Regions from separate parts of the Homo sapiens genome. Here region 1 is linked to region 2. Evidence: fine-mapped expression QTL. Tissue or cell type: skeletal muscle. Region 2 holds a variant in brackets; the other region holds the start of a gene. All regions are shown on one strand. Distances are from middle to middle.

Evidence for each region. PIP is the estimated chance that this variant, and not a neighbour inherited with it, causes the effect.
Region 1: AMOTL2 starts here. The variant in region 2 is fine-mapped to the expression of AMOTL2 in skeletal muscle (GTEx, PIP above 0.99).

The regions. Positions count from the first base shown.
Region 1 is chr3:134,373,266-134,376,016 of GRCh38, forward strand. AMOTL2 (angiomotin like 2) reads right to left here and starts at 1,182. Exons shown (of 10, transcript NM_016201.4): 1 at 1,077-1,182. RefSeq lists enhancers at 442-1,241, 1,242-2,041, 2,042-2,751.
Region 2 is chr3:134,311,927-134,314,677 of GRCh38, forward strand. It overlaps LINC02004 (long intergenic non-protein coding RNA 2004), which reads left to right and starts at 1,650. Exons shown (of 2, transcript NR_146711.1): 1 at 1,650-1,691. RefSeq lists an enhancer at 1,789-2,362. The variant G/A (reference allele first, on the strand shown) is at 1,596.

The DNA.
Region 1 (2,751 bases), 61 kb after region 2:
GGGCATTTCCTATGATAATCACTCTCTGGGCCGACTCCCACAGAGAAGGCAGGGGAGCGGCAGGAAGGAATGCGGAGCCTTCCTGACAGATTCCAGGCGCTCCATAGTGTGCCCGGACTGGGAGCAAGGAACATCTCCAAGGCCTCTCATCGCGAATTTGTCCCGGCCAAGCCCCTCAGATTCACGTCCTTTCAGACATCAAACGCCTGGGCCTTTACAAAAACCTGCTTCCGCGCCCCCGGCCGCGAACCTCTGCTGCACTCGCCCGCTGCGCTCTCTGAAGGCCGCCTTTCTAAGCCAGCGCGCGTCTCCAGCCTTGGCCTGGGCTCCTGCTCGCCTAAGGAACCAAAGACAGTCTCCAAGCTAGGAGGTTCTGGCACCCCAGCCAGGGCTCCCGCCCCACCACGAGCCCGGGCGGACCTGGAGCACCGGTGGCCGCTGGTACGCCTGGGGCGAGCCGGTGAGGGTAGCCCGAGGCCCGGAGAGGTCTTTAAGCATCGCGGGTCCGCCTCCCTCCCTCTCGAGCCCTCTTTGTTTTCCAAATACTCTAACGCTGACGTCACCGGGCTGGACAGCAGGCTGCATTCTTTCTAAGTGAGGGCCAATTCGTGGCTCCAGAGAGGATTTTCCAAGGAAGACAAAGAGGAATTCTTGGACTAGTTGGGGGCAAAGGCACCTGTAACCCCCACCTAACCAAATCAGCCCGCAGGACCCTGCAACTTGAGCTCCAAGCGGCGCCTCCATCCCTGTCCCCCGCCACCCCCACCCCCGCCGACCTGCAACCCGAAACACTGTGGCTGTTGTCTCCGGAGTCGGCCCTCTCCCCTCTCCCCCAGCCCCAAGAGACCCGCGCGTTTCTAGAGCCCCGCAAAGCCCAGCGCGCTGCGCTCCCTGGGCAGAGCGGCCCTTGCCAGGCACTGCGGCTGCCTCGAAAGGGCGCACTGCGCCCCGAGGACGCTCGATCCTCGAGGCTCCGACTCCCGGAAAAGGCCGGGTTGCGCCGAGACTCCAGCTTTGGCTGGGGCACGTTTCTGTGGCCTCGCGCGCTCTCCCGAGCGCCGAGCGGCCTTCCTTACCGCTGCGGCCCGAGGGTGCCCAGCGCAGTCAGACACCACAACCTCCGGCTCGGCCCAGCTCAGCTCGGCGGCGAAGATGTGTTCTCGGCCGTGGCGCCGACGCTCTGGCTGTTCGCGCCCCAGCGCGCAGCCCCAGGGTCGGCCCGCGCCGGAGGCGGCTGCTATGCCAGGAATGTGAGAGTTTCAGGTTCCCCCTCGGGATCAAAGCGAACCACAAATAACCTCTCAGCGCACCGCCCTCCTCCGCCCTCCGCCTTCTCCCGCTCCCTCCTCCCGGCCCCCGCCTTCCTCCGGGGAGGCGGCGCTGCTGGCCGAGCGCCGGCCCGGCCCCCGAGCTCCGTTCCTCCGCGCCCAGCGCCCTCCAGGCCGCGGTGTGTCCGCCCCTGCCCCATGCTTTGCCTTCGGAGCTGCTGGAGACAATTTAATCCAACTCTGCCCATTATCGCCTCCACTCCCAGTCGCCGACCCGCTCTCACCCTTCATCCCTAAACCCATCGACGGGACGACAGCAAGGGCTGTACCACGCGTGTCCTGGGGTTGCTGCGGGAGGGGACTCCGGCTGTGTGTGTGTGTGTGTGTGTGTGTGCGTGTGTGTGTACCGGGGGAGGTGGGAAAGGGAGGAGGGACTGCAAAGACATCCATATCCTCTGGGCTGGGACAGTGCCCCGGGCTAAGTGAATGCTTCCAGCCACAGAGCCTCTTTCCCCTAACCCCCGCTGTTTTCACCCCCAGCGGCAACCTTTGAATGCACTTTTGTTTACAAACACCTTCGCCAGCTATTTTACGACCGTCTCGACAGGAAGTGTGAATCTGGGTTGGAAAATCCGGTCAATTTGACCCACCTACCCAACTGAATCACCCGCCGCCAGGCGCTCTGTCCAGTTCTTCCCCAAGGTGATAATAGGCGCCCCTTTACGCAGAGTGCAAGGTGTGCCACCGCTGGCTTTTCGCCCAGTCATCCGATTCAGCCCTGCCAAGCACCCTCCAACGGAGTTCTGTTATCATCCCTGTGTTGTAAATGAGGACACCAGGGCTCAGAGAGCTTAAGCAGCGTGCCCAGAGTCACACACAGTGAGAACCAGGTAATCAACCACTGGGCTGCTTGGTTTCTCATTCTCAAAACCCCTCCCTGGCTATCAGAATCCAGGCTCCCTAGATGGACAGGGCAGACACTGGGAGCCCTCCTCTCTCCACTTACCCTGTCCTTGCTTTAGTCTCTTCTTTACCTCCCCCTACACCCCTGCCAGCCAGGGGCTTTCCCCTGTACCCACTTCTGTGGCTCCTGCATGGAATCCTCTCCTCTGCCCCCAGGACACTTCCACTGCTAGATGGAAACCCCTTCTTCAGAAAGCTCGCTCTGACACATGCTGTCCCCGTTCCCCATCACACAAGCCCTCTCTACAAGTCAGTTGGGGTGAGGTGGGGGCAGTCAGGCCCCTGTCCACCCAGAGAGTCAGGGCTGATTTCTACCCCTGGCTGGGTCCTCCCATCAGCATGGAGTTTGCAAGTCCCAAATTCACTGGAGGGAAACAAGGACAAGGAAATTCTGCAAGCTTAATTGCCAGGGACATTGTTAATTTTTAATAAAACTCACAAAAAGTGTGTGTGTGTGTGCGCACGTGTGTGTTTTACTTGGAAGTCAAATACTGTGTTTCAAACAGTGATTGGATCTGAG
Region 2 (2,751 bases):
CATTCCACTGAGGCAGAGCCTTGGCACTGCCATTTGATGAACTGCCAGGGTGGTGTAAAATGTCTAGAATGTCCATCTTCTGTGTCATGGGGAAGAGACAGACCTTGAGCGAGGGCTACAACCTCAAATCAGGGCTGCATGGCCACTTGCCACCTGGGCACTCTGGGCCTACCTCCAGATATTGCAGGCCACACCCCTGCCAGGTAGGAAAGGAGCCATTTTATTTTCCTGCTCTCAGAGGTTACGAAACCAACCAAGCAAGGCAAGTCGGCCATCAGGCTCAGCCTCCCATGAAGCGCTCCTGACTTCCCACCCTTCCTCCAGGCCAGGAGTCTGCCAATCACAATCTGGGTTCTGTTTTCCCGCCTTTCCTGGCAGCACAAACCACGGCTCCGGATGGTGAGCAATGCAAGTTCCAGGCATGCCTTGCTGCATTACTGGGTTCCCAGGTGTCACTTCATCCAGAGGGTGAGTCCTTCACAGGTCTGTGGGCTGATAAACATGCAAATTTCCCCACGCAAATGATGTTAGGCCGTGGCACCTTTCCCACTGAGAAAGCGCCCTGTCAACAAGCTGGGAAAATGGGTGAAAGCCCATGCTTTGCCCGCCCTGGGTAGCACACACTGGCCAAGAATCTGGGCAAGGCCCCCTGCAGGGGCAAGCGCACATCGCACACTCCCGCCTCGAGTCCCTGCGGGAAGGCAGGGACTTCCGCAGGCCTGTGGTCTGGCTTTAGGGAAAAGTCCATTTGCTCACTTGATTCCGTGGTGTTTCCACGTGAGCGCAGCTGTGTGTGTCAGCTGATGTGTGTGATCTGAGTGGTTTCTATACCGTCGTGGAAACCCCCAGCCCAGTGGTTATGGACTTTCTTGGGGCCTCAACTCTCCCCAAGAGCGTGATCCTCACTACGGGGGAGCGGCGCTTTATCCGGCGGGGCGGGTGGACACTCCTACAGACCCACTTTGACCCATTTTCTCACAGTTTCCAACCCAGAGCCGCAGGGACAGGGGCGGACTGCGTTTCCTTCCCTGAGCCCTCCGCAGAGCCTCTGGGCAAGGCGGGCAGGGCCCAGGCTGCAGCGGGGCCTCCGGCCCGAGGCGCCTGCGTGGGAGCCGACCCTAGGCGCCGGGAGCCCCGGCGGGAGCTCCAGGGGGTGCGGGCGTTAGAGAGGGCTAGGGCCGCGCCCAGGCGGGGTGCGGGGAACCCGGGAGATGAAGCCGCCCAGGGGCGGGGGTGTTTGTCACCAAGGTTCTGAGGGGCCGTGGAAGGTTTTTACCTGTTTTCATTGGGAGCAAATAACAAAACTAAAAGCGATGGAGGAGTGGGGCTGCAGAAATGGAAGCAGCAGTGTGGGGAAGCCGGACGCTTCCCGGGGAAGAGGGAGAGGGGACGCTCAGATCCAAAAGGCGGGCTGGGAGCGGAGTGGGGCAGCCGCCGGGGGGCGCCCGCAAGGGCTAGGGCTCGGGGCCGGGTTTGGGGGCGGGTAGGGGCGGGCAGGGGCGGGGCAGGAGCCGGGGCTGCGAGCTGGCCGCGGCGCAAGGAATGCGGCCTTTGGCTGGTCCCGGGCCGGCATTCCGGCCGGCGCAGGAATGTGA[G/A]CAGGGTGTTCACTGCGCGCTCTGAGCGCACAAGTTTGTTCTCCTCTCCTTGGAGAACGCCGGCCCGCTCTGTGCCACCCTCTCCCCAAGCCCCCGGTACGTCCGTCTGTCCGGGTGGAGGACAGGGCCCCGAGGGCCGCGACCAGGAGGGACTCGCAGGAGGCACCGGACAGGGGTGCGGCGAGACCAGTCGCGCTGGAGGAAAGGAGGGAAGCCCGCAGTGGTCCGCTGAGGCACTGAGAAAGCCAGGCCAGTAGCTCAAAGAGGAGATAGGACGTGCCCCTCTCCATCATCAGCCTCAAGGGGCACAGGGTTCAGATCCCAAAATGTGCCCATTTAGGGGGCACATTGTGAAGGGCAAGACCTGGGGAGAGAAGAGGGAAAGCGGACAATCTAGTTTAGGATTAGGTGCTTTCTGATCGGCCAGGGAGTGACTGAATACCTAACAGCATTTAACTCATTCAACAAATATTTGCTGAGCCTCTGCTCCGTGCCAGTTCCTGAGATTAATTCTGGGGGCACAGAGGTGAAGTCATCCTGTCCTTGAGGGGCTGACATTCTGATCCTCAAGACAGTCTCTGAAACACCGAGGGAGAGTTGGGGGAAGCCCAGGGTGTGGGGGAACACCGAGGAATAACACAGATTGGGGGTGGAGATCCAGGAGGGCTTCCTGGGAGAAGCTGCAGAGTGACACGGAAGATCAGTAGGAGTCAGCCCAAAAGATGGGAGAAGAGTATTTTAGACAGAGGGAACCTTATGTGCAGAGGAAGAGCCTGTGCTGCGATTGGCCCCCAAACAGAGCATAAGTCTGCTCCTGGCCTCTCCCCATGCCTGCCAAAGGCCCAGCTGAGTCACAGTAAGGGTCAGGGTGTCCATCTCAGTCCACTCATGATGTTGGTTGGTCTATGGAGCCCCTCTTCTGCGAGAGGCACAGCAGTGGCCCGTGAAGAGTGAGAAGAGAATCAGGACTCAGCACGCTGCTGTGGGAGTATTGTGGGGACTGATAGATAATGCCCATAAGCATCTGGTGTGGGGCCTAGCACCTAGTAGGCGCTCTGTGTACATTGGCTGGTCTCTCAGCACCTTGCCTGATTGACTGACTCCTCTTCCCCTTCGTAGTACTGATTTCTGGTTCCGAAAAGGCAGCTGTCCAGCT